Homo sapiens: one gene and its partners. The protein of the gene in region 2 interacts with the protein of the main gene of each other region in a pairwise test. Each region holds a gene or a part of one and is shown on either strand. Other genes may lie near its edges.

The links.
Region 1: the proteins of TNFRSF10D (region 2) and FAM114A1 interact in binary tests that used the Homo sapiens proteins (3 or more experiments, as listed by UniProt).
Region 3: the proteins of TNFRSF10D (region 2) and PITPNC1 interact in binary tests that used the Homo sapiens proteins (3 or more experiments, as listed by UniProt).
Region 4: the proteins of TNFRSF10D (region 2) and ECPAS interact in binary tests that used the Homo sapiens proteins (3 or more experiments, as listed by UniProt).

Annotation. Positions count from the first base shown.
Region 1 is NC_000004.12:38,877,789-38,884,816, reverse strand, and holds part of FAM114A1 (protein NOXP20), read right to left. Parts: intron 6,747-7,028; 5' UTR 6,739-6,746; coding exon 6,391-6,738; intron 1-6,390. UniProt on the Homo sapiens protein: May play a role in neuronal cell development.
Region 2 is NC_000008.11:23,154,002-23,161,029, reverse strand, and holds part of TNFRSF10D (tumor necrosis factor receptor superfamily member 10D precursor), read left to right. Parts: intron 1-6,050; coding exon 6,051-6,156; intron 6,157-7,028. UniProt on the Homo sapiens protein: Receptor for the cytotoxic ligand TRAIL. Contains a truncated death domain and hence is not capable of inducing apoptosis but protects against TRAIL-mediated apoptosis. Reports are contradictory with regards to its ability to induce the NF-kappa-B pathway.
Region 3 is NC_000017.11:67,667,275-67,674,302, forward strand, and holds part of PITPNC1 (cytoplasmic phosphatidylinositol transfer protein 1), read left to right. Parts: intron 1-2,233; coding exon 2,234-2,389; intron 2,390-7,028.
Region 4 is NC_000009.12:111,411,380-111,418,407, reverse strand, and holds part of ECPAS (proteasome adapter and scaffold protein ECM29), read left to right. Parts: intron 1-401; coding exon 402-525; intron 526-2,055; coding exon 2,056-2,136; intron 2,137-3,756; coding exon 3,757-3,979; intron 3,980-4,421; coding exon 4,422-4,513; intron 4,514-6,259; coding exon 6,260-6,394; intron 6,395-7,028. UniProt on the Homo sapiens protein: Adapter/scaffolding protein that binds to the 26S proteasome, motor proteins and other compartment specific proteins. May couple the proteasome to different compartments including endosome, endoplasmic reticulum and centrosome.

The DNA of each region.
Region 1 (7,028 bases), on a different chromosome or scaffold from region 2:
AGCTATCAGGGAAGAAACCTTAGCTCTGAAATCCAGACAGTTGCCTTGAGTAAACCTTTCATTCAAGATGGTGATCAAAGCACCTAAACAATGGGATGTTCTCAAGCCTACATGAGAAAGAGTTCTCATACACCATTTTCAACTCTCTTGTTAATTACCGTTTCATTTAAAAATGTCAGTGTGGTACAATGTGATCTGAAACTTGATTTCGCTTATAGAATGTGGTAGTGGTGAGATTGTACTATAAATTCTTTGCTAGCTACCATAATCTATTTAAAAAGCAAAACAAAACCCTAAGAGCTGTGCCCAACCAAACTGGCTTAGAGACAGAAACCTTCCAGGGCTGAGGGCTTGGCCTCTGTTGTTATTTATATGTTAACACCTGAGCCATCTTACCCACTTCCATTACTGAAATAACCACATAGGTGCTGATAGCCTCTGAATCACCTATCTCTCCAGACCATTTTAACCAACTGTCCACAAAGTATCTTCACTTGGATGTTGCATGGCATATTTAATACTGAACTCAGGCCGGTGCGGTGGCTTGCGCCTATAATCCCAGCACTTTGGGAGGCTGAGGTGAGAGAAGAGCTTGAGTCTAGGAGTTTCAGACCTGCCTGGGCAACACAGGGAGACCCCGTCTCTACCAAAAACCAAAAACCAACTGAACTCACCATCTTCTCAATTATTCCCCGTACCCCAACTAGCTCTTGCTGTGTCCTAGTGTTAGTGGTTCCCAAACTCTAGTCCACAGACTGACTGTAAGAGTGTCACCTGGGGGAATTCATTAAAAATAGAGTCTCAGCTTCCACTATGATCTTGTGCCTAAGAATCTCTTAGGGTAGAGCCCAGGAATCTGAATTTTTAACAGGCTCCCCACATGATTCCAATACACCTCCAGATCTGGGAAGCACTGCTCTCTATGGCAGAATGGCACCTCCATCCACCTGGTTGTCCAAGCCAAAACTGGGTGTCACCGTTCAGGGAACACAGAATAAGGAACGTAGGCAGTAGGGAACTCTGTCCTTTTAGAGCAGGCCAAAAAGGGAAAATACTCAAACAGAACCGGAGAAAACTCTGCTCATCCGGTTTAGGAGGCTAAATGCTGTCATGTCTCAGCCTGTGTCCCCTACTCCTTGTCTCTCTTGACCATAACTTTATGGCATTTAAACATTCTGCTTCTCCTTTTTTAGGGAGAGAACTATCCATGGTGGTCCACACTCCCATGTTTTCCCATGAGAGTACTCAACAGTGTTAACATTGGGATTCTTGACCTTCTCCATAATCGGCCTTATGCGTTGGTGTTGAGCAGTAGGGATGACATTTTAAAAATTCTGGGTAACCTTTCTTGGTGTTAAGAATTCAGAGAAATTTAATCTAGATTGGGTCTTTTAAGGGTTGACTGGCTAGTATATAATAAGGTCCCATAAGAGCTCTGGGAACAAATGTTACTCCCAACCAGTACTCAAGACAAACATCTTTGAATTGAGGCTGAAGACTTCTCTGATTCTTTAAGACGAATTTAAATGCTCTGTCTAAAGCCTCCCTTGTGCCTGTCCTATCTAGTACTAGAGGACATGTAATCATTGCTCTCATACAACAATGTTTCCCCCAACTAGACTGTAGGCATCCTGAAGATAGTTACACCACCCAGATTTCTGGGCATAATGCATTGTGTCATGATGCTGGCAGAGGCCTTAGAGAATCCGGTCCAACCTCCAATGCTGAGGACCATTTCTCACGGAGGTTGTAGAGTGGGTTCCTACAGGAGAAGGCTCAATTCAATGGCTTCTGAGTCTGTATGTCAGAAAGGACAAGAAAGCAAAGAAGCCCTAAAGATAGAGATAGTTTATCCGAGTGCATAAATGGTGTGGTCCTTAAAAACAGAGGTGCCAGCCAGAAAGGTGGCCTCCTCCTTGACTCTGGCCACCTGCTAGTCGCAACACCCCATCTGCCAAGTTATGGTGGCCTTGCTGCCTGAGGCAAATGTGAGCCTAATGATGTGGATTTTAAGGGGATCCAGATCCAGGTACTTACAAATATATATGCATACACATACACACCACACACACATTTATGCGCATTATCACAAAATCTAATGTGCCTTAGAAGTACGTCCTCAAAGTCTATTCTGCCCGTTTTCTTTTTTTAGTAAAGCAAGCATTCCTCACAGAAACTTTTTTTTTTGAGATGGAGTTTCACTCTTGTTGCCCAGGCTGGAGTGCAATGGTGCAATCTCGGCTCACCGCAACCTCCGCCTCCCGGGTTCAAGTGATTCTCCTGCCTCAGCCTCTCGAGTAGCTGGGATTACAGGCATGCACTACCATGCCCAGCTAATTTTGTATTTTTAGCAGAGACGGGGTTTCTCCATATTGGTCAGGCTGGTCTCGAACTCCTGACCTCAGGTGATCCGGTCCCCTCGGCCTCCCAAAGTGCTGGGATTACAGGTGTGAGCCACTGCACCTGGTCAGAAACTTTTTTTTTTTTTTTTTTTTTTTGAGACGGAGTCTCGCTCTGTCGCCCAGGCCGGACTGCGGACTGCAGTGGTGCAATCTCGGCTCACTGCAAGCTCCGCTTCCCGGGTTCACGCCATTCTCCTGCCTCAGCCTCCCGAGTAGCTGGGACTACAGGCGCCCACCACCGCGCCCGGCTAATTTTTTGTATTTTTAGTAGAGACGGGGTTTCACCTTGTTAGCCAGGATGGTCTCGATCTCCTGACCTCATGATCCACCCGCCTCGGCCTCCCAAAGTGCTGGGATTACAGGCGTGAGCCACCGCGCCCGGCCCTGGTCAGAAACTTTTTTAAAGGGCTGATGAGAATTTATCAGGTGTAGATGTACATGGGGTCAAATAGGCTTTTGCACTTGGCTATTTTCCTGCAGAACCTGCCATTCCTCAGGGGCAGCCTGTGTTCAATCCAAACAACCACCTTGTAATGAACTTTAGATTCAAGAATTTGTTTTGTACAATTCACTCTGCTCTGGAGCAACAGGGAAAGAGTTGTTTTCATCAGTGCAAAATGATTTCTTATGAGTATGCAACAAGAGGCAAATAAAATAGAAAAAAATGAACAATAATCAAAGACTAGGCATAAAATTGACTTCTAATAAAAGGATAAGCTACTAAGAGAGACAGTAGAATCCCCTTTCCTGGTAATCTTTAAAAAGAGACTAAATTTGCACCTACGTAGAATGGTTTAAATAAGACCTGGGTGAAAGTGATATCCTCTCTTCCAGGCCCTTTCAGCCAACCTATCGGCTTTCCTGCCCTTCTTAAAACAAACTCACAGGTACTGTCCCCACTCCTTTGTTCCCTCTGAGCTTCTGACCCAACACAATACATCCAGAGCCACGGGCCCGACTCTGTGGCCAGTGTTTGCACTTCCATCCAGGTAATTCCGTGGTGCTCTATTATTAGGAATTTCTCCCCTTTCCAAGGTCCTTGAAATGCTGTCAGTGTTGTAGGGGGTGGGGAAGGTGGAGTACCTGTTACCAACCAGCTCAATTTCTGTAGCATTCAGGAGGTTTATAAGGTGTTTTCAAAGCAAGATTCATTCCATTTGACCAAAACATTTAAGGCAAATGTGGTAGAAGCATACTGATTTTTTTTTTTTTTGAGACAGAGTCTCGCTGTCACCCAGGCTGGAGTGCAGTGGCTCAATCTCAGCTCACTGCCTCAATCTCAGCTCACTGCAACCTTCACCTCCCAGGTTCAAGAGATTCTCCTGCCTCAGCCTCCCAAGCAGCTGGGACTACAGGCATGCACCACCACACCTGGCTAATTTTTGTGTTTTTAGTAGAGACGGGGTTTCACCATGTTGGCCAGGCTGGTCTCGAACTCCTGACCTCAAGTGATCCACCTGCCTCGTCCTCCCCAAGTGCTGGGATTACAGGCATGAGCCACCGTGCCCGGCCTTACTATGCTATCTTCATGAACAGTCCTGTTATAATTATTATGTCTGAAATTGGAATGTATATGGATTTTGAATTAGTATGGATTTTGAATTAGTAGAGCTTGTATAGTTTAAGTCATCTTAGGTGATAATGGTGTGGCTAAGTTATATTTTTCTTACTGTACCAAGATATTTGTTAACAGTAGCACTTAGGATGAAAATTGGGAACCATAGCTCCCTACATGAGACAGACAGTGTGGAGGCAAAGCAGGCTCTGGAGTCAGGAAGACTCTGTTCAAATCCTCACTCTGCCATTTCCTATTTGGGCTGATTCTTGACATAATCTAGTGGTCCATCTCTTCACCAATACCATGCAAACTGCCAAACCTGCGGCTTATTAATGTCCCACTTTTACTTCCTATGTGTTTTGTGGCTGTTATTGCTATTGTTGTTGTTCTAAGATCAATGGATGAAAAAGTGTCCTAGTAGCCAAAAGAATGAAAGGGCTTGTCTCCAGATACTTTTGAAGTGTTATTGTAGCACCACAGCATTTTAGAGCTGGAATGATACTGAAGACCACTTACTCAAAGAATCATAAAAAGGACTTTGAAAATTCTTTAGCCTAAACTAATTATTCTCAATCCTGGCCAAACATTACAACCACTTGGGGTACTTTTAAAAATTGCTGATGTCCAAGCCCCATTCCTGAATCAGAATCCTTGGGCTTGGGACCCTAGCATCAATATTTTCTATTCTATTCTATTCTATTCTATTCTATTCTATTCTATTCTATTCTATTCTATTCTATTCTATTCTACTCTATTTTATTTTATTTTATTTTATTTTATTTATTTTTTTGAGACAGAGTTTCACTGTCATTGCCCAGGCTGGAGTGCAATGGTGCAATCTCGGCTCACTGCAGCCTTGACCACCTGGGTTCAGGTGATCCTCCTGCCTCTTCCTAAGTAGCAGGGACTACAGGTGCATACTACCATGCCTGGCTAATTTTTTGTATTTTTCGTAGAGACAGGGTTCGCCACATTGCCCAGGCTTCAATACATTTTAAATCTCCCCCAGTGGTTGGTAACATTCAGCTGAAGTTGAGAACTTCTGGTCTAGGGGCCCTTAATTATTTAGGGCATCTATGGATGGCTTCAAAGGGTCAGCGACCTCTTGAAACTCATAAACAAAATTTTGTGTTATGTTTACCCTATCTGATTCAAACTCCCAGCTGGTCCTCAAATTGCTTCCATAACATCCCTACAAAATGACTGTTCAGCTTTTGTTTAAACACTTCCAGTGAAGGGAAACACCTTGCCCCTGAGGAAGCCCATCGCAGACAGTTCTGAGGGTCAAACCCCTTGAGAAAAGTGGGTGGGAGGGTAGCCCAATCTTGAATACAGGAGTCATAAAACATTAGTCAGAAGGATGCATCAAAGTCTTCATGTGAGAATTCTTCACTTCATAGAGGAAAAACCTGAAGCGCAGAGACATTAGTTTGTCTGGCCCAAGCTCATGGAGTTAATGATAGATTGGAGGGTGAATGCCCAGGGCCCCTAGTTCCCTGTTTAGTTCCTGTCCCTCACATCATGCTGCAGAGTCACCTCAAGGGGGTGATCTGTGGTGGCACACTTCAGGATGAACAGGGCTGGGCCTGGCTGAGGGAAGACCCCAATTCCTCCCTCCTGCACCACCCTTCTAGAAGGCAGTCCATTCCAGACAGGATGAGGAGAGCAGCCTGTCTCCTTCTTTAATGCGGGGCGTCTCCCACCCCTGCCCGGCCCCACATGGCTGGAGGTGAAAGCTCCAGGAAAACCCTGCTGGGATAGTCTTCTTGGTGGCCCAGGTGCCAACAGGGAGATCTGGCTTATCTCATACCCTGAGAGATAGGTGCAGGCACTGAAAGGGGAGGGGTGATGAGTGCATTCTGCCTCTGTTCCCCTGGAAGGTGATGTGTGATGATAAAACAGTGATCTGAAGGCTGAAGATCTCCACTATGGACTTGTAAATATACATCAGATTTTAAGTGATCTTAAAGAAACATTGACTTGTTTAGGGTGGAATCAGGCTTGTTAATTATCTGGAGTCATGATGTGTGATATTACAATGTTTTCCATTTACAACCAAGTAGCCCAGGACAAGCTACCACCTCTGAGCCTGGTTGCCACAGGTATAAGCTGGAGTTAGTAATACCCAGGTTTGAACTGTTGATGGAGTGAATTACATAACATAGAAAGTGGCTAGCAGAGTGCCTGGCACACGGCTTGTGTCTGATAATTGGTGGCTGTTACTGTTAATAATACACTTATCAAAATGCAAATATTATGACAAATTATTTTTATATATGTCTAATCTCACTACACATTTCTGATGACAGAGGGGATGTCACAGTACATTTTGAACTCCCAATTCCCACCCACAGAGCTTGGTGCTAGCTCTGCACACGGTAGATATAAGCAAGAACTTAGGCCGAAGTGAATTGAATGACCCATTCTTACCAGATAATTCTGTTCTTGCAGGGGTATTTCGGATCTGGGTTCTGCCTCAAGGCTGACGGAATCAATACATTCAGCAAGTGTATCCTCAGTCACGTCTCCATTGAGAGGGGGCTCCAGGGCGTTGGCATCCTGAGGCTGCACAGGGGGCCCAATGGCGGCAGCCCCTGCACCCTGCACAGCTGCATTTTCATGCCCCTCCCCTCTGGGGTCAGCTGGTGTTGGCTCATGTGAAACTGCAGCTGAATCACAATGCACTTCTGCATCCTCAGGTAAAGAATCACTATTAGGCATCTCAGTAACTTCTGCTTTGTCTCCAGTGGCTAAGGTGTCACCAGCATCATCAGACATTTTAGTATCTGTCAACACAATTATAAACACCTCATGCTTTCATCGAATTGTTAAGCTTCAATTCAAAGCCCTGGATAAATAAATCTGGTAGGGGAAAACTTTTTTTTTTTTTTTGAGACGGAGTTTCGCTCTTGTTGCCTAGGCTGGAGTGCAATGGCATGATCTCAGCTCACTGCAACCTCCGCCTCCCAGGTTCAAGCGATTCTCCTGCCTCAGCCTCCCGAGTAGCTGGGATTACAGGCATGTGCCACGACGCCTGGCTTATTTTGTGTTTTTAGTAGAAACGGGGT
Region 2 (7,028 bases):
CACCTCCATACCAGGCTCCCTGGCCTTGGGGCAGAAGCTTCTGAAGACTGGGGTGGAGCACCATGTGGAGGGGCCATCGAGGAACAGAGGAGCCAGAGTTCAAGTGAGGACAGCGATGGCACTGCAGGGCCACAGCCTGGTTTACCTGCCAAGTTTCCAGTTGTGCTTCTGGTGGGTGTCCGGCCCGGGTTGGAGTTTGAAGATGAGCAGGAAAGGTCTCCATCCAGGTGGCTGCAGATGGCTGCTCACCCAGCCCCTACTGAGAGGCCACGGTCCCAGTTCTGGTTCTCTGTCCTGTATCCAGGAGTGGCAGGGTAGCGAGGCTCTAGCTTCCAGGTTGGGGATGGAGACAGTGGGGACAGTGCCATGCCCCGAGCCTGTGCTGTTGGGCAGCTGGTATCCTGCTCCCAGCCAGAGAGTGTACATCTTCGTGTAGTGGATTTTCCTAACAACCAGGGGACATGAGGGCAGGTTGTTTTCCCTGTTTTACAGGTGGCAAAATGAGATTCAGGAGCAATGTCTCCAGCATTTTTGTCCTCACCTTCTGAATAATAGCAGCCATATTTGGGCCTCTGAAGGGCTAGAGTTCTCTGAGGAGCTGCTTCTCTGATCTCTGTCCTGCACTTGGCCTCTGGGAGCTCCTATGGGTCCTCAGCAGAGTCCACAGGGCTCTTCGGAGTCCCCTCCCTGTGCCACAGCCTGGAGCCTGTCCTTAGGTGGTAAGCTGAGGCCGCCACTGCGCTCACCTCATGGGCTTGGGGGGAAAGTGAGTCACCCAGGAAATAGACAATGAGCTCTTTATTGTCTTTGGAGTCTGCTGGAGCCAGGGAGGACAGATGAACCCCATGTGAATCCTGCTTCCTGGAGCCCACAGTGTGGTGGGTGAGGTGACACCAGGAATCATATAACTAATAGGAGGTAGCATGAGGGAGGCCTGATATCTCACCACCATTGCCTCCCCCTCCTCCAGAGAGGCCGTGTTGGTGCAAGGCTATAGGATGTGGTATTGTTGGCGTGGAGGATGGTGTTTGGTTAGAGTCACCATTGAGAGTCATAGAGGGAAGCGAAGCTCCCCTTGAAGGGCTTTTTTTTTTTGGCTGGACCTGAGAATTAAATTGACATAAGACAGGTACACAGGAGAAAAGCACGTACGACTTCTTTTTTCTTGAGATGGAGTATTGTTCTGTCACCCAGGCTGGAGTGCAGTGGTGCAATCTCGGCTCACTGCAACCTCCGCCTCCCAGATTCAAGCGATTCTCCTGCTTCAGCCTCCTGAGTACCTTGGGATTACAGGTGCCCACCCTTGCGCCTGGCTAATTTTTGTATTTTTAGTAGAGACGGGGTTTTGTCATGTTGTCCAGGCTGGTCTCGAAGTCGAGCTCAGGTGATCCGCCCATCTCAGCCTTCCAAAATGCTGGGATTACAGGTGTGTGCCACCATGCCCAGCCAACACACACATTTATTTAATGCAAGTTTTACCTAGCACAGAGAAGCAGTGAGAGTCAGTTACTTATATATTGAATTGGACCAAGTAACTTGTGAAGAAGCTAGTAAATATATGGAGGCTAAAAAGCTGAGTGGTTCTGTTCTAACAAGGTCTGCACAGTAATCTCTTGGCCTCGACTTCTCATCCTTAAAAATAAGGAGATCGTCCTATGTTTCCCTGGGGACTTTCATCTCCTGCTTTTAGGAAACACAAAAGAGGTCAAAGCATCTTATTGCGCCTGCTGTTTTTCAGTAGCCTTTAACTGATAATAGTCAATGGGCCAGGGTGGGTGGGCAGGTGCGATGGCTCACATGTATAGTCCTGCCCAGGTGGGTGCATCCTTAGAGCCCAGGAGTTCAAGACCGGCCTGGGAAACATAGCAAAATGCTGTCTCAAAACCAAAAACCAAAATAAAACCAAAAACCACAGACACAGACACACACACACACACAGAAAATCATGTCGTGTGAAGGAATACAAGCAGAATGCATACCATGTGATTCCTCATCTTATTAAAATACAACTAATCTATTGTGATAAAAAGCAGAAGAAGCATTGCTGGGGACATAGGAGCAAAGCAGAAGAGAGGATTACATTGAAAAATGAAGAAACACTGCAGGACGGTAGACATGTCATTATCTTATCGCGGCGATAGTTCCACAGTGTATACGTACATCTCAACCTACCAAACTACATGCTTCAAAAATGTACACTTTGTTTCATATCCATTATACCACAATAAATCTATTTTAAAAAAACCTTCAATAGAATATAAGCACTTGAGTGTATACTGTATTCCCTATAGCACTTGCACATAGATCATGGAAATAGGTATGCATAAAAAGTCAGTACCCAGTTAAAGTGGAATTCTAAAAGGTAATTAACATTAAAATGTGCAGGGGAAAAAGGAGTAAAAAAATTAGACTAGACAACCGTAGTTTAAATGGTAAACGTATAGGTCTATTTTGACTAACAATTATTGCACTCCCTGTAAATCCACTGAGCACTACAGTTCAATGGTAGAAATGTTTGGAAGGGCTGAAAAAACAAGACTCAGCTATATCTTGTCTATATGAGATGGGCCTTAAAAGGAAGACACAGATGCTGTCTGTGGAAAGCAAATAGATGGAAAAAGATACCCCACGCAGAGTGTAAGGCCAAGAAAACTGCCGTGGCTATCTCAGTATCACATGAAGTTGATTTTGTTAGCGGTGGACGAGATCCGAGTTACCCTACGTTGAAGGCGGCGAATCCGTATGGGTCCACAGCACCTTCAGCTCTTCGCCTCCTGAGAAGAAAGAATTGGACTGAGGGGCATAAGGCAGAAGGAGAGACAGAGGCAAGTTTCAGAGCAGGAGTGAAAGTTTATTAAAAAAGCTTTAGAACAGGAAGGAAAGGAAGGAACGGAAAGAAAAGAAGGAAAGTACAACTTGAAAGATGGCCGAGCAGGTGACTTGAGAAACAGTGCACAGCCGGACTGCCTGAGTTGGGGTTTTATAGGTTGGCCTACTTCCAGGATCTTGCCTTACTTCTCCCCACTCCTGAAATCTTATTGGGAAGCTGCTGATCAGTTTCAGGTGTTTTCTATGTATTAGGAGACTGCCTTTTTCTGGCATTGGCTGTAACCAGTTCTTACTTTAGAGACACGGTTATCAACCACCTGATGGTCGCCCAACACTGCTGGTGTCAGAAGCGGGGAGCCCTCTCCTACCCTGCTCATACCTGACTAGCTGCCTACTGTAACAATTTTAGGACATAGAATATTATGGGAGCTCAAAAGGGACCCTTGTAGTTAAAAAGGTTAATTCTTCAAGGAGTATAATAATAATCACAAATTGTATATGCCTAGTAATACAGCTGCAGAACACATGATGCAAAAAGAGAATGAAAAGGAGATTAAATCAGCTGTTTCTCTGTAATTGACAGAACGGTCAGATGAAAACCCCGGTAAAGTGGCAAGCGATCTGCACACTATCAACCACCTTGACTTAACTGACATTTAAAGAGCAGGAGTGGAACATCCACTGAACACTGATTCCTTTCTATGCTCATGATACTTTCACCAAGATAGACTGGGTTCTGGGATATAAAACACGCGATATGACCTCTAAACTTAATGAAACGAGACTGGAAGTCAGTAATAGTATCCATAGGGAATTCTAAAATTTGGTTATTGAACAATACACTTCTAAAAAATCTGTGGTTCAGAGAAGAAATCAAAAGGGAAGGTAAAATGTTTCAAAATAAATAATAATAATATAACAGCAAAACTGGTGGGAAATGGCTAACAGTGCTCGGAGTGAAATAATACAGCTTTCAATGTGTCTATTAAAAAAATTGGGGAGATGGGGAGTTACTCCTGAAGGGTATGCAGTTCCTTTCTGGAGTGATAAAAACATTCTAAGATTGATTATAGTGATGATTGCATAGCTATGAGTATATTAAAAAACTACTGAAATGTAGACTAAATGGGTGAATTATATGAATAATCATAATTACTAATTATGTGATTTGTGTCTCGTTAAAGCTGTCAAAAAAAGAAAAATATGTGAAATTTATGGCCTGAAGATCTACATTAATCAATCATAAAATATAAGCATAAATTTAAACCAAAGTAACAAGGAGGAACATAAATCAAGGAAATAGAATAGAAACCACAAAAAGAACTGACAAAACGGACTGTGTGTGGTGGCTTACGCCTGTAATCCTAGTACTTTGGGAGGCTCAGGCAGGCAGAACGCTTGAGCTCAGGAGTTAGACCAGCCTGGGCAACGTGATGAAACCCCAGCTGTATAAAATACACCAATATTAGCCCAGGCATTGGGGCACTCTCCTGTCTGTGGTCCCGGCCACTTAGGGACTGAGGTTGGAGGACCACTTGAGCCCGGGAGGCAGAGATTGTAGTGAGCAGAGATTACACCACTGCACTCCAACCTGGATGACAGAGGGAGATCCCGTCTCCAAAAAAGAAAAAAAAAAAAAAAGAGTTGAGAAAATGAATAGTTGCTCTTGAAAAGGAGTAAGGGTGTGAGAGCAGAGAAAGGTGACAGAGACATCGCCTGAACCTAGAGGGACCCCAGCTCTAGAAGGGAGGATTTGGGAAATGTGCATTAGCTTCACTGTCACCAACTACTAGGCAGGCTTTCATGTGGAAGAAAGCTACATTTTGTCTTGCTGAGAGCCAGGTAGTTGAACAGAGCCCAAGGTAAGTAGCTTTTATTGTAACCATTTTGTTTTTTCTCAGGAGCAAGATTATATTAAATTTAATTAAATGTAAATTTACAATTAAATTAATTTTGTACTTTTACACACTCCCAACTTAAAAGTTACAAAAACTATGCAAAAAAAATTTGAAAAATAGCTGTTGGCATGATGAAAGCTATTATTGAATTTTTCAGTGTGTACTTTCTACAAACAAGGAAATTAACATCAACACATTACCACTATCTAATATGCAGACTCTATTCCGATTCTCCAGTTGTCTTCTCGTCGTCATTTATAACACAGAGATCATGGCCATAATCCCTGAATTGCTGTTTTATCTTTTTCTGTCACTCTTTGATATTTAGTGGGAACAGCTTGTCAAGGTCCTTTGTGAAGCAGAAATTACTTAATGTTTGATGCTATATCCTGACTTTCTTTAAGGTTATATTGTAACCCTCATTTGTAAAAATGTGTATTTTTATGTGTGTGTCTGTGTGTGTGCGAGAGAGAGAGAGAGAGAGAGAATATTCACCCACTGGTCAATTAAACACTTGGTCAAACTAAATACATTAGATGCTATTTCTGCTTGAAGGGCTCATATGTGTGGTTTTTTTGTTTTTTGTTTTTTGTTTTTTTTTTTGAGACAGAGTCTCGCTCTTTCGCCCAGGCTGGAGTGCAGTGCAAGCTCCGCCTCCTGGGTTCACGCCGTTCTCCTGCCTCAGCCTCCCAAGTAGCTGGGGTTACAGGTGCCCGCCACCATGCCCAGCTAATTTTTTGTATTTTTAGTAGAGACGGGGTTTCACTGTGTTAACCAGGATGGTCTCAATCTCCTGACCTCATGATCCACCCACTTTGGCCTCCCAAAGTGCTGTGATTACAGGCCTGAGCCACCGCGCCTGGCCTTTTGTGTTCTTATAAAATCTTTTCTTGCCAACTACAGTGGTGTGTTCCTGTTACCCAACTTGCTTGGGAGACTGAGGCGGGAGGATCACTTGAGGCCAGAAGTTCCAGGCTGTAGTAGACTATGATCACACCTGTGAATAGACACTGCATTCTAGCCTGGGCAACATAGCAAGACTCTATCAAAAAAAAAAAAAAACTCTTCTGCTCATATTTTCTGGGGTAAATATATTTTATGTTATAATATGATAAAAGGATACGGAGGTGTTTTTCTTTATAGAAAATAGCTACCTAACAGGCCAGGGGACAAACACGGATGCAAAAGAATGAAAGTTTGGAATGGGAAAAAAGTCCAGGCTCTCATGGGTTTTGTCACTTGGGGTGAAGGGAATGTGAGACGGAGCCTGGGAGAGGTAAGGTCTGGAAGCCACTCAAGCCCATCTCTGCCTTGTCCCCACAGGTCCGGGTTGACTCTGCCACCATCCCCCGGCAGGACGAAGTTCCCCAGCAGACAGTGGCCCCACAGCAACAGAGGCGCAGCCTCAAGGAGGAGGAGTGTCCAGCAGGTGCACTCTTATTTTTAAAAATCAGTTTATTTTTAGTTGACAGATAAACATTGTATATATTCATGGTGTACACCATGATGTTTGGAAATATGCACGCATTGTGAAATGGCTAAATCAAGCTAATTCACATACTTATCGTGTATTTGTTGTAAGAACACTTAAAAGTCTACTCAGCAATTTTCAGCTGTATGGATACAGAGCCCTGGGATAAGCCCTCTTTGCCCTCCTCACCTGTGGGTTCTGTAGCCATCCTCATCTGTGGGTGTTGCATCCGTGGTTGCAACCAACACAGATCAAAAATATGTGGAAAAAATAATGAAAATGATAACATGTCAATAAAAGTAGATAAAAAGCAATGCAGTAAAGCACTTATTTACATAGCATGTCTATTGCATTAGGTATTACAAGTAACCTAGAAATGATTTAAAGCATATGTACCTGGGGTGTATGCAATACTATCCCAATTTGTATCAGGGACTTGTGTAAGTGCAGAGTTTGTTCCATGGAATATATTCCCTGTGAATAGAAGGCAGGACTGTACAACACATTGTTTTAATAACTGTAGTCACCATGTCACACAATACATCTCTTGAATTTATTTCCCCCTGTCTAACTGAAATTTTGTATCCTTTGACCAGCATCTCTCCAACCCACCGTGCAAATACAGCGCTGGTAATCACCATTCTACTCTCTACCTCTATGAGATCAAGTTTTAAGATTCCACATATGTGAGATCATGAGGTGTTTGTCTCTCTGTGCCTGGCTTATTTCACTTAGCATGATATCTCCAGGTTCATCCATGCTGTCACAAATGACAGAATTTCCTTCTTTGTTGAGGCTGAATAGTATTCCATTGTGTCTATGTACTACAT
Region 3 (7,028 bases), on a different chromosome or scaffold from region 2:
TACCAGCACTCTGGGAGGCCGAGGTGGGCAGATCACTTAAGCCTAGGAGCTTGAGACTAGCCTGGGCAACATGGCAATACCCCATCTCTACAAAAAATACAAAAATTAGCCAGGCATGGTAGTGTGCACCTGTAGTCCCAGCTACTTGGGAGGCTGAGGCAGGAGGATTACTTGAGCCTGGGAGGTCAAGGCCGCAGTGAGCCATGATCCTTTCTCAAAAAAAAAAAAAAAAAAGTACTGAAAATTAGCTCATACATACATATTTAAGCATAATTACTGGGTTTTATATAGTTTACATGTTCTAAGGTATCTCTGAAAAAAATAATCTTCTAATGAAATAATCAGCAAATGATTGGCTAATGGCAATCATTAGACAAATATTGGATGATTAAACTTAAAAAAAAAAAAAAACCCTTGCTGGGCACAGTGGTTCATGCTTGTACTTTGGGAGGCCTAGCACTTTGGGAGGCCAAGGTGGGTGGATCACTCGCGTTCAGGAGTTCGAGACCAGCCTGGCCAACATGGCAAAACCCGGTCTCTATTAAAAATACAAAAATTAGCTGGGCATGGTGGCGGGTGCCTGTGATCCCAGCTACTTAGGAGGTTGAGGCAGGAGAATTGCTTGAACTCAGGAGGCAGAGGTTGGGGTGAGCCAAGATCAAACCACTGCACTCCAGCCTGGGTGACAGAGCAAGACTCCATCTCAAAAACAACAACAACAAAAAAACCCTTTTACCTGTTTTTTTCATTCTTGTAATTGAAGTATAATACAAATCTTAAGTGTAAAACTCAGTGAATGTGTACACGTTACATCCAGGTCAACATATAATCATCCCAGAAGTTTCCTTCATGTCCCTTTGCACCAAGCCCCCACCCCCAAAGAGATTACTGCTCATCTAACTTTTATCACCATACATAAAGTTTTGCTTGTTCTTGAACTTCAATTTGAATCATACAATGTATATGCTATTGCATTTGGCTACTTTTGCTTAACATAGCATCAGTGAGAGTTGTACACGTTTTTGCATGTATCAGCCATTTGTTCTTTTTCATTGCTGTGTAGTATTCCATTGTGCACCTAGACCACAATTTATCTGTCTAGTTTCTTGCTTATGAACATTTGGACTGTTTCCAGTTTTTGCCTCCTGTATTTAAAGCTGTCGTGAGGCCAGGTATGGTGGCTCACACCTGTAATCCCAGTACTTTGGGAGGCCAAGAAGGGAGGATCACTTGAGGTGAGAAGTTGGAGACCAGCCTGGGCAACATAGTGAGACCCATCTCTACAAAAGAAGAAAAGAAAAAATTGAGGCCAGGCACGGTGGCTCACACCTGTAATCCCAGCACTTTGGGAGGCCGAGGCGGGCAGATCACGAGGTCAGGAGATCGAGACCATCCTGGCTAACACAGTGAAACCCCGTCTCTACTAAAAACAAAAAAATTAGCCAGGCGTGGTGGCGGGCACCTGTAGTCCCAGCTACTCGGGAGGCTAAGACAGGAGAATGGCGTGAACCCGGGAGGTGGAGCTTGCAGTGAGCCGAGATCGCACCACTGCACTCCAGCCTGGGCGACAGAGCGAGACTCCATCTCAAAAAAAAGAAAGAAAGAAAAAAAGAGAAAAGAAAAAATTGAGACACAATATAATTCACCCTTTTAAATAAATGTGCAATTCAGTGGTTTTTCGCATATGCACAAGGTTGTGCAACTGTCACCACTGTCTAATACCAGAATGTTTTCATCACTCCAAGAGGAAATGTTATATCCATTCATAATCACTCTACATCCCTTCCTTTCCTCAATCCATGTCAACTACTAATCTACTTTCTGTCTCTATGTTTGTTTGTTTGTTTTTGAGATGGAGTTTCGCTCTTGTTACCTAGGCTAGAGTGCAATGGCGCAATCTTGGCTCACCACAACCTCTGCCTCTCGGGTTCAAGCAATTCTCCTGCCTTAGCCTCCCGAGTAGCTGGGATGATAGGCAGTAGGTGGGATTACCACCATGCCCAGCTAATTTTTGTATTTTTAGTAGAGATGGGGTTTCTCCATGTTGGTCAGGCTGGTCTTGAACTCCCGACCTCAGGTGATCCGCCCGCCTCAGCCTCCCAAAGTGCTGGGATTACAGGCGTGAGCCACCACACCCAGCCCTATTTCTATGTTATTTAATACTTATTCCTGACATTTAATAATGATGGTCAAACTTTTAATATATCAATTTCTTTGATTTTTTTTTTTCTAGGATCCTAAGCACTTCAAGTCAGAGAAGACAGGACGGGGACAGTTGAGGGAAGGCTGGAGAGATAGTCATCAGCCTATCATGTGCTCCTACAAGCTGGTGACTGTGAAGTTTGAGGTCTGGGGGCTTCAGACCAGAGTGGAACAATTTGTACACAAGGTAAGTGGTCCAACAGCAGTTCCTGGGCTGTGGACAAGGTAACTGTCTATATTGCCAAATTGGAGTCCATGATACACAACAGGTGCACAAATACATCAGGTCACTGCATCTCAAAAACACTTTTTGGGCCGGTTGGGGTGGCCAACACCTGTAATCCTAGCACTTTGGGAGGCCGAGGCGGGTAGATCACTTGAGGCCAAGAGTTCAAGACCGGCCTGGCCAACATGGTGAAACCCTGTCTCTACTAAAAATACAAAAACATTAGCTGGGCATGGTGGTGGGTGCCTGTAACCCAGCTACTCAGGAGGCTGAGGCAGGAGAATTACTTGAACCCGGGAGGCAGAGATTGCAGTGAACCAAGATCGTATTATTGCACTCCAGCCTGGGCAATAAGAGAGAAACTCTGTCTCAAAAAATAAGAAATAAAAATAAAAAATAAAAAAATAAAAAATACTTTTTGGATGAAAATGCATTTTATGCATAGGTTCAATTTTCTTCCACTAATAGATGTTTTATGCCCCATCTCTCATTCTGTGACCTCCATGTCTATTAGGCAAGCGTATTTGGGAAACACACTTCTCAGTTTGGTATTGGACTCATCTACTCCCAGACAGAGAAACTTGGGAAACAGCCAAAGGGCTTATCTGTGAGCACAGCCCCTAAGGTTAATTGCCACCCAAAAGATCTACAAATGTAAGCACCTAAGCAGAAGATGCCCAGAGGTAGAACAAGAAATCCCAATAGTCCCATTAGACAGTATACCCCAGCATTTCTGCTTCTTTAATAATTCTGTTACTAAAGTAGCCAGGTGTGGTGGCTCATGCCTGTAATACCAGCCCTTTGGGAGGCTGAGGCAGGTGGATCACTTGAGGTCAGGAGTTCGAGACCAGCCTGGCCAACCTGGTGAAACCCTGTCTCTGCTAAAAATACAAAAAAATTAGCCGGGTGTGGTGGCACGTGCCTATAATCCCAGCTACTCAGGAGGCTGAGGCAGGGAGAATTGCTTGAACCCAGGAGGCAGAGGTTGCAGTGAGCCAAGATCGTGCTGCTGCACTCCAGCCTGGGTGACAGAGCAAGACTCCATCTCAAAAAAAAAAAAAAAAAAAGGAAATAATAAGAATAATTCTGTTACCAAATAATTGTTAACAGCCTCGGGATGCAGATTTCAATTGTAAACCTACTTTGGCTAAACATGTTCATTTTGGTTTTTTGTTGTTGTTGCTGCTGCTGTTGTTTTGAGACGGAGTCTCACTCTGTCGCCAGGCTGGAGTACAGTGGCACAATCTCAGCTCACTGCAACCTCTGCCTCCCGGGTTCAAGTGATTATCCTGCCTCAGCCTCCCGAGTAGCTGGGACTACTGGGAGGTGCGCACGCCACCATGCCCAGCTAATTTTTGTATTTTTAGTAGAGATGGAGTTTCACCATGTTGGCAGGGATGGTCTCGATCTCTTGACCTCCTGATCTATCTGCCTCGGCCTCCCAAAGTGCTGGGATTACAGACATGACCCACCGTGCCCGGCCGGCATGTTCATTTTGTAGCAGAATCCCACTTGGTGAAGAGTCATATTTTCTCAGGGTTTCTAACATGACTCTGTCCCTCATGGGAGAAAAAAATGGGAAATGCAATGTTGAGCATTGCCCTTTGTAGCTGCTCTCATTTTCATAAGAATAAATACTACCCAAATTGTCTCTACATTCCAGATAGGCTGGTTATCTGTTTATTTTTCCACTTAAAAACTGATAAGAGTAGCTTGCCAAAATTATTTTGGAGTCACTGGAATTTAACCTTAATGCACTGAGCTTTTTGTTACTTAGATGGATTTGTCTATTGAGATTGGGGGCCAGTTAACAATAAAAAGTTTAATTCTGGAATTTAGGTCCAAGAACTAGACTGCCAGTCTCTTGAACCCTCATAACTCAGGCTCACGGTAATGGCAGACTCTGGCACAAACATGAGAGCCCTGGGTGTTTTCTTGAACAGAGAAGCATGCCACTCCTTTCCCGTGCTCCAGAACCCAGCCAGCCAGCCAGGAGCCAGAATGAAATGTGATACGTAGAAATCAAGCTCCAGGATCTCCTGTTTTCCTCCTGTGTCCTGATTATTGCACAGGAAAGCAATTGCAGCTCCCAAAGTAAATGTTTTCCAGCCTCAGCTTTGTGTCTATCTAAGGCAGTGTCTTCCTTGGTTTCCCACAGCATCCCTTTTTGTGTGTGGCTTTTTAAGGTAAAAAGACTTCCTCTTACTAGGGCCACTATCATAGTATTATTTTGTTTTGTTTTGTTTTTTTGAGATGGAGTCTCAATCTGTTGCCCAGGCTGGAGTGCAGTGACATGATCTCGGCTCACTGCAACCTCCACCTCCCAGGTTCAAGCAATTCTTGTGCCTGAGCCTCCTGAGTAGCTGAGGCACAGGTGCATGCCACCACACCAGGCTAACTTTTGTATTATTAGTAGAGACGGGGTTTCACCATGTTAGCCAGGCCAGTCTCGAACTCCTAACCTTAAGTGATTTGCCTGCCTCGGCCTCCCAAAGTACTGGGTTTACAGTCGTGAGCCACCATGCCCGGCTTCATAGTGTGTTTTCCACTCACAAAGCATATTTAATAAGGCAGAGTTGTCAGTTAAAAAGAGAATAATACAAAATAAAAATAAGGCTGGGCGTGGTTCACACCTGTAATCCCAGCACTTTGAGAGGCCGAGGCAGGCAGATCACTTGAGGTCAGGAGTAGTTCGAGACCAGCCTGGCCAACATGGTGAACTCTCATCTCTACTAAAAATACAAAAATTAGCTGGGCGTGGTGACAGGTGACTGTAGTCCCAGCTACTCCAGAGGCCGAGGCAGGAGAATCACTTGAACCCAGGAAGTAGAGGTTGCAGTGAGCCTAGGTCGCGCCACTGCACTACAGCCTGGGGGACAGAGCAAGACTCTGTCTCCAAAATAATAATAATAATAATAATAATAATAATTTAAAAGGCCATATTTATATTGCCCCAGGGTCCACTGTGTTTCTTTTCTCACAGATGACTCAGGCTAGTTTTGAGAATCTGTTTCCTGAAAATACCTGTAAGATTTATGCCTTGCCCTTTCCAAATATAAGGAAGTGTTATTGACACTCCAGAAACGCACCTGCTCTCGCACGTGAGTCGCTAATGAGTATCTGAGGCTAGCATTTGCATGGGTTGAAGGTGCCAGGGATGCCTTTCTCTGAACACCTTTGTTTTTTTAAGAATCTATTCACAGTTAAGGGGAAAAAAATGTTCGAAAGCGAGCCATGAGCACATTATTGAATTCTGGTTTCCAGCCGACAGCTGTGTTGTGCTTCGTGTAATAGGGTACATTTACTGATGCCTCGATGCTGTTCTTTTGATTTCCATGAATTTGAGACACTCAGCACTCAAGTGTGTATAGCTGTGTGTTGTTTCTTGTATTCATTATGTGTTTCCTACTTTCAAGTCATAAAAGCCTCACTAGATATCCAGAGGCCTGGAGTCATAAACACTTCATTATAAATGCTTTCCTTGTTTCTGCAAATTCACTGAATTAAAATCCTTCATTTATTGAAACATGCTTGAACCTTCCACGAGAGGTTTTTCACAATCACTGGATTTGTTTGGCAGGAAGAAAGGAATGTTACAGGGATACTGTGAGTATCCAAGAAATGTAAAAAGACATATTTACCCAGGATGGAAAAGAATACCATGAAATAAAAACACATGAACAGTATCTCACACACGCAGACACACACACACACACAAATGGTATATACTATTTTCCTTAGCCTTCTATTGCCATTATGTGTCACCATAAGAAACAATTTCATCCTTTTTGTGTCCAGTCAAGCTTGTCATTCCCATTACGTTCTATTCTAGTTCAGGTCTCTTTTTTCATCCTTTCAATGGTAAACGGCCTTTTTCCCCCTCTTCTATTACATGAAAGTCAAACCTAAAAGGATATTTACTTATCTTGTATCTCACACATTCATTTATGCTTGTTTAAAAATTGAGGCCAGGCGTGGTGGCTCATGCCTGTAATCCCAGCACTTTGGGAGGCCGAGGCAGGCAGATCACAAGATCAGGGGTTCGAGACCAGCCTGACCAACATGGTGAAACCCCGTCTCTACTAAAAAAATACAAAAATTAGCCGGGCATGGTGACAGGCACCTGTAATCCCAGCTACTCAGGAGGCTGAGGCAGGAGAATCACTTGAACCAGGGAAGCGGAGGTTACAGTGAGCCGAGATCGCAGTGAGCCGAGATGGCGCCACTGCACTCCAGCCTAGGGGACAGAGCGAGACTCCGTCTCAAAAAAAAAAAAAAAAAAAAAAAGATAAAAAGAAAAATTGAATCAATATTTATTTTTTAAATAATTTTTTGTGGGTACATAGTAGGTGTAAACATTTAGGGGGTACATGAGATGTTTTCATAAGGCCTGCAATGTGAAATAGGCACAATGTGAGGAATGGGGTATCCATCCCCTCCAGCATTTATCCTTTGTGTTACAAAGAATCCAATTACACTCTTAAGTTATTTTAAAATGTACAATTAAAAAATTGAATCAGGCTGGGTGAAGTGGCTCACACCTGTAATCCCAGCACTTTGGGAGGCCAAGACAGGTGAACTGCTCGAGGCCGGGAGTTTG
Region 4 (7,028 bases), on a different chromosome or scaffold from region 2:
TGAATACATAGAGATGTAAGACTTTGGGTGGAGTGTGTAGACCACTGGATAGTCACTGACTTCTAAAATATGTATTATAGTTGTTTATGGTTTAACTCTACGAGGTAAAGCATACACATAGATATTTACATAATAATTTACTTAAAGTACCCTATCTTGTTTTTTAATGTGAGTCAAATTCAAAGATGTAAGCCAGATGAGTCCCCGGACCTCATGCAATTTCTGAAAAGAAGTGATTTCTTATAATGTGTTATGTTGACTCTGCTTAGATAGCCAAGAATGTATTTAAGACATTTTCTGAGAACTCTAGCTGCCAAATAAAATTGCTGTTCTTATTCTTCAAATGATCATTTCCCATTGGTGACATTTATTTTTTATTCTTATTTGTCTTTTTCTGAAAGACGTGAAGAAGTTCATGGAGAAGCACAACGCGTATTAAGGTGTCTTCCAGGTAGAAACAGAAAAGAAAGTACTTCTGAGCAGATGCCTTCCTTCCCAGAAATGGTTTATTACATCCAAGAAAAGGTATGGCATGCAACTTAAGGTAATTAGTCTAAATCATAATGGATGATGAAAATAAAAACATCTTTAAAGTGAAAAATGTAATCACTAGATGTTGACTCATAAAATTTCTTTTTCTTTTCTTTTCTTTTTTTTTTTTGAGATGGAGCTTCGCTCTTGTTGCCCAGGCTGGAGTGCAATGGCACGGTCTTGGCTCACTGCAAACTCCACTACCTGGGTTCAAGTGATTCTCCTGCCCCAGCTCCTGAATAGCTGGGATTATAGGCGCCTGCCACCAAGCCCGGTTAATTTTTTGTATTTTTAGTAGAAACAGTGTTTCACCATGTTGGCCAGGCTGGTCTTGAACTCCTGACCTCAGGTGATCCACCTGCCTTGGCCTCCCAAAGTGCTAGGTTTACAGGCATGAACCACCATGCCCAGCTGACTCATAAAGTTTCTAGCATTAATACTTACAATAAGAAGAAGATACAAAGTGAGGAAAAAAAATTGTAATCCTCACCTGTAATTGATCTGTTTTGCCTAAACTTGAATTACTTATAATTCCTTTCATGCTTGGCAACATTTTGGCTGTGTTAAATATTTTTTCCCTTAATATGACATGCTTAAAAATACATCTCCTTTTTTTAAAATTTTTTTATTTTTTTTTGAGACAGGGTCTTGCTCTGGTCACCCAGGCTAGAGTGCAGTGGTGTGGTCTCAGTTCACTAAAACCTCCACGTCCCAGACTCAAGTGATCCACCCTCCTCAGCCTCCCGATAGCTGGGACTACAGGCGTGCACCACCGTGCCTGGCTAATTTTTTTATTTTTTGTAGAGACAGAGTTTTGCTATATTGCCCACGCTGGTTCTCCTTTTTATTTTTAAGGGCACGCTTTAGGGTAGTGTAAGTTTAAGGATGCTTCAGGGAACAGTTCATGTTCTTCCCACCGTGTTCATAAGAGAGCATCCCATCTGCTTTTGTAAGTTTTTGCTTTTGCACAGTGTTTTCTGCTAGTAGATCCAGGATATTGGCAGTAATGACCATCCACCCCCTCCAGGCCTTGACTCTGTCCCACTTTGCCGGAGGACACCTTCCTACCTTTTACCTCCACTGGTGATCCTAGCTCTTTGCTAGGTAGGCACCTTAAGGGAGTTGAAGGTCAGTATGCAGCGGCCATGATTCTGTTTTCCACATAGCAGCACAGTCTATTTGTGGTCAGAAGATTCTCTGCTTGTAGTTTCCTCCTACTTTGATTATTAATGAAAATAACTGGCATGCAGTGACCTGAGATGACCATATTAGTAGATGTCTGGAATAGGTTTATTATTTTTAAACAAACCAGAACAAACATGGAAAAAGGGCAATACACTTGTCTTTTAGTGTGTGAGGGACATGCACGATCAGCATGGTTAATAGGAAAGTGGAAAATGTTTGATCAGAAAAAGAAGCAAACTTAGGACATGTAGCTAGAAACACAGTTGTTTTTGAGTTGAGGAAGGGCAGGTATGCTTCATTTTTCAGTAATTGTGTCTGTTTTGGACTTTTTAAACTTAGGCTTCTCATCGAATGAAAACTCCAGTCAAGTACATGACCGGGACCACTGTCCTTCCATTTAACCCAGCAGCCTTTGGAGAGGTAGAACTTTCATATATTTCTATTTACTTTTTGTAAGTGTTCTAAAAAGATCACACCACACCCAAAGAGGGGTCTGTCATTTTGTTGTGTTTTAGGTAAACCCATATTGTGGTGTCATTGTTCTTCATCGGGTTGTTTATTTAAAAAAAAAGTATTGGGAAATTGGTATTATTTTAATTCATAGTGAAGTATGTAAATATATTTATCTCAGTGAGATTCTTTTTGTGAAAAAACTGGATGTTCTGTAGTGATTACTATTGGGATTTTGCAGCAAGTTAGATTTGGGTTTTAAAGCCAACCTGTTGTTGAGGTTGTTAGGGTTATTTAGTTTTGAAGGTTGGAGAGGATTAAATTGATCACACTTATTAAGGGAAATTCTGTTTTTTAGATTATTGACTTGCTCTAGGTAAATTACAAGAGGTGATCTTGTTCGGATTAAGAATATTCACAGTGAATTTGCTGCCTATCCTATTTTAACGATCAATGAAAAAGCTTCCAGAGGATGGACTCCTTGGCAGCCTGTTTATGTAAGGGTTGTTTTTTTTGTTTGTTTGGTTTTTTTTTTTTTTGAGAAGGAGTCTCACTCTGTTGCCCGTGCTGGAGTACAGTGAATGGCGTGATCTCGGTTCATTGCAACCTTGCCTCCTGGGCTCAAGTGAACCTCCGTCCCAGTCTCCTGAGTAGCCATGACTACAGGCGTGCACCACCACCCCTGGCTAATTCTGTTATCTTTTTGGTAGAGATGGGTTTCACCATGTTTCCCAGGCTGGTCTTGAACTCCTGAGCTAAAGCAGTCCTCCTGCCTCAGCCTCCCAAAGTGTTGGGATTACAGGCGTGAGCCACTGTGTCTGGTCTATATCAGAGGTTTTTATGGTGTTATATCTATTTTTCTGTAGATGAATTGAACCCATTTTCTCAGATTCTTGTGTCAATGGAGTAAACACAACTGGAATTCTGCAGGAGTAATAGGCCATTTACTTCAGATTTCTTTCCTCTCTCTCTGTCTTTCTCTCTCTCTCACACACACACACACACACACACACGGCTTTTAAAAAATAATGATTTTTATTATAATTTTTAACTTTTATTTTAGGTTCGAGGGTACATGTGAAGGTTTGTTATATAGGTAAATATGTGTCATGGGGGTTTGTTGTATATACTATTTCATTACCCAGATATTAAGCCCAATACCCCATAGTTATCTTTTCTGCTCCTCTCCCTCCTCCCACCCTCTCTCCTCAAGTATACCCCAGTGTCTGTTGTTTGCTTCTTTGCGTTCAGAAGTTCTTATCATCTAACTCCCACTTATAAGTGAGAACATGTGGTATTTGATTTTCTGTTCCTGCGTTAGTTTGCTAAGGATAACAGCCTCCAGCTCCAATTTCTGACTTTAAAAGTTCAGTTTGTATTTTAACAATCTTAAAAAATTCTTTGGATTTGCAAACCTTATTATACAAATTTTGCTCCATTATGGCATATTTTCTGCCTTCCATGAGGATTGGAATAGCTTTATAAAGAAGTGTGGGTGAATCAAAACTAGAAATTGTTACTTTGAAGAGTACCTTCCCACACTGACTTTTCGAGAAGCTTATGCAGTCTTCCTCTCCGTTCTGTTTGTAGATCGTTCTGTACTTGCGCATGTGCCTTGCGCACAGTGCGGGGGTGGTGCCCACCTCTCAGAGTTTGGCTGATATGCAGGATCATGCCCCAGCCATTGGGCGCTACATACGGACTTTAATGTCAAGCGGGCAGATGGCACCCTCATCATCTAACAAGAGTGGGGAGACTAACCCTGTCCAGATCTACATTGGCCTGCTTCAGCAGCTGTTAGCAGGTGTTGGAGGTAGGAATATGTGACGCGAAGGAAAGATACTGAAGCACTTAAGCAAAAATCTAATTTTAAACTTTGCTAAGAATTTATAGCAAAATTATTCTTTTTCTTCTGTAACTGAACATTAGCCTTTGTTTCTTTTTAAACTTACCTGATTCATTCTGGATACACTACTTCTTTTTTCGGAAAGAAATGCTAACAATAGATAAATACATTTTTACTTCGGAAGTGGATGTGAAGAACAGGATATCCTTTTTATAGATAGCTCATCTGTAAATTTGCTGTAGTGAATCACATACTATATTTAGGTTGTGTAGGTTTTCTTTTTTTTTTTTTTAATAGAACCGAAAGAATGTGTGCTAAAGCAGTGGCCTTATACTTTAAAGGAATTTAGTGATCCCTGTATGTTCATTACTTTTCTTGAAATTTAAGGTGATTCTGAATTCTTATTTAGGTTTGCCGGTTATGTACTGTCTATTGGAAGCTGTGTCAGTGTATCCAGAAAAGCTGGCTACCAAATTTGTAGACAAAACAGAATGGATAAAGGTATGTTCTGCATGTACCTTTTTTTAAAAAAAATTCTATTTCAGACCTTAACTTCATGATTTCTTTTTCCTGCCAGCGGGATCCCTATGACCTTTTCTGCCTTTAGGTCGTTTTGAAAACTCTCTTATCATCAGACACTTACTGGGAAGCATGTAGGTCACTATGTCTCATTGACACATCTGGAGGAGATTGGGAGATGAATTGAGAAGCATAGGAGTAAAAAAAAGTTCCTTTTCTGTTTCAAAAGTTTTTTTTTTTTGAAAAAATAAGCAATAGATTTGTGTAGTTTAAATAAAAACTATGTAAAATGTCTCCTTTCCGTAACCATCTCCAACCTACCCAAGCCTTCTAATTTTTGTCCTTTCCTCTCCCCTCTGACAAACATATATAAGTGACCACTTATATATGGCATGCTTTCTAGAGTTTACTTATGTACATACACATAAAAACATGCATTTAAAATTTTTGTCCCATCTTTTTATCAAAAGCAGCATACTATTCATACTGTTTTATACATTCTTTCACTTAATAGTAGAGAACTATTCCACTACAACTATGGAGAGAGCATCTTCTTTAACAGCCTCAGTTTTTATTGTATGAATGTACTATCATGTATTCTAGATCTTTATAGATGGTCATTTAGAGTACTTCCATTCTGCTGCAATGAATAATCTATCATCTTGCATATTGAGGAAGTATATGTTTTAGATGGATTCCCTAGAAGTGGAATAGCTGTATCAGAGGACATGTGTTTTTGTAATTTTCATAGGTAATGCCACACCCTCCGTGTGTGGTACCAATGTACACTTCTAACAGTCATGTATGAGGGTGTCCCTGTCCCATGGCCACACCAAAAGGGATGCCAGGTTTGGAAAATAAAAATACAAGATACTCAGTTAAATTTGAATTTCAGATAAATAATGAATAATTTTTTTTTTTGTATAAGTGTTGGCCCATACAGTTTTCTGTATCTCCATGTGCTACATATTGCGGTTCTTTTTTTGGAAAATACAGCTTGAATGATGGTAAAAATGTAAAAATTATGTCTTTAAGTGTGAAAACATGAATGAAATTTGCCAGGAGGTGTGAGTTTTGCACATTTCTGGATAGTCTGGTCTTATGAAATTGCTTTTAGTTTAAAAAGGTTTTTTTATTTCTTATGAATATTGACTGATTTTAAAATGATTTTATTGAACTTTGATGTTTTAGATGAGAGGTTGTCATGCTATAGTCAAAGGTCCAAATAGGGCCTGCCTCCTGTTTTTGTATGGTTTGCAAGCTAAGAATGGTTTTTACATTTTTAAATGTGGAAAAAAAAATCAAGAAACGAATAATGTTTCATGACACAAACATTGTCGTGTCCATGTTTTACTGGAACCCAGCCACGCTCATTCATTGTGTATTGTCTGTTGCTGCCTTTGTACTGCAGTGGCAGAGTGGAGTAGTTGCAGCAGAGACCAAATGGCCCATAAAGCCTTTTTGTTTTTTTACAGAAGTTTGCTGACCCTTGTTTTAGATCATCTGTGAATAAATTTCACCTGTTTTGTACTTGTGTATCTTTGACGAAAATGGACCTAAGATTTTGTTATCTAATTCATTCAGCTTTCATTTTGTTTTCAAATAATGGCTTGTTTTTTTCTCAATATCCATCAACAGATTGAACGTTCTTTTAATTTTAAAAGATGTTGTCATCAGGCACGTGGTTCTGTGTCATGTATATATTTGTTTTTTTTTTATACTGCTCAGAGTCTGATGAATAACAGTAAAGAAGAAATGCGCGAACTGGCAGCGTTGTTTTATTCTGTAGTGGTATCAACAGTGTCGGGGAATGAGTTGAAATCAATGATAGAACAGCTTATAAAGACTACAAAAGACAATCACGTATGTTATTTTGTTTTCATTCTTTTTTGTGGGAGATAGGGTTTTATAAAAGGATCTAACTTATTTTTGACTTTTATGTTCTCATTTGTAAAATGAACTTACAAATTCCTTGCTTTTATGACCATAAAGAGTAAATGAGATAGGTGATACATTGGTTCAGTCAGCTCACTTAACAGATACGGGTGCTGTGTCTGATAAGCACTGTTTTAGGTGCTAGGAGTACAGTGATTCATAAATACATGAGAATCCCTGGTACAACAGGATGCTCAGAGCCTGCAGCCGTACCACCGTGAACACACCTAATCTCATCTGATCTTGGAAACTAAGCAGGGTCGGGCCTGATGAGTACTGAAAGCGAGAAATGTTAGCTCCTTTTTTCTTCCTCATCTACTGCTGCCAGTGAAAAAACAAGTTTTACTTCACATAGTTTGTTGGTTACCTTGTGTTTGGAGGTTTTGGCAATTAGAAATAGGATCTGTTTATTGTCTTTTGTTGGCAATAGGAAGACATTATGTGTGAAAGTTATGATATTCTAGTTACATAAGTGCTGTAAGCTGGAAAGTGGCGTGGGAGCATGTAGGAGCATGTAGGAAAGTCATCTCACCCGGAATTGGAGTGGGCATGGAATTACAGA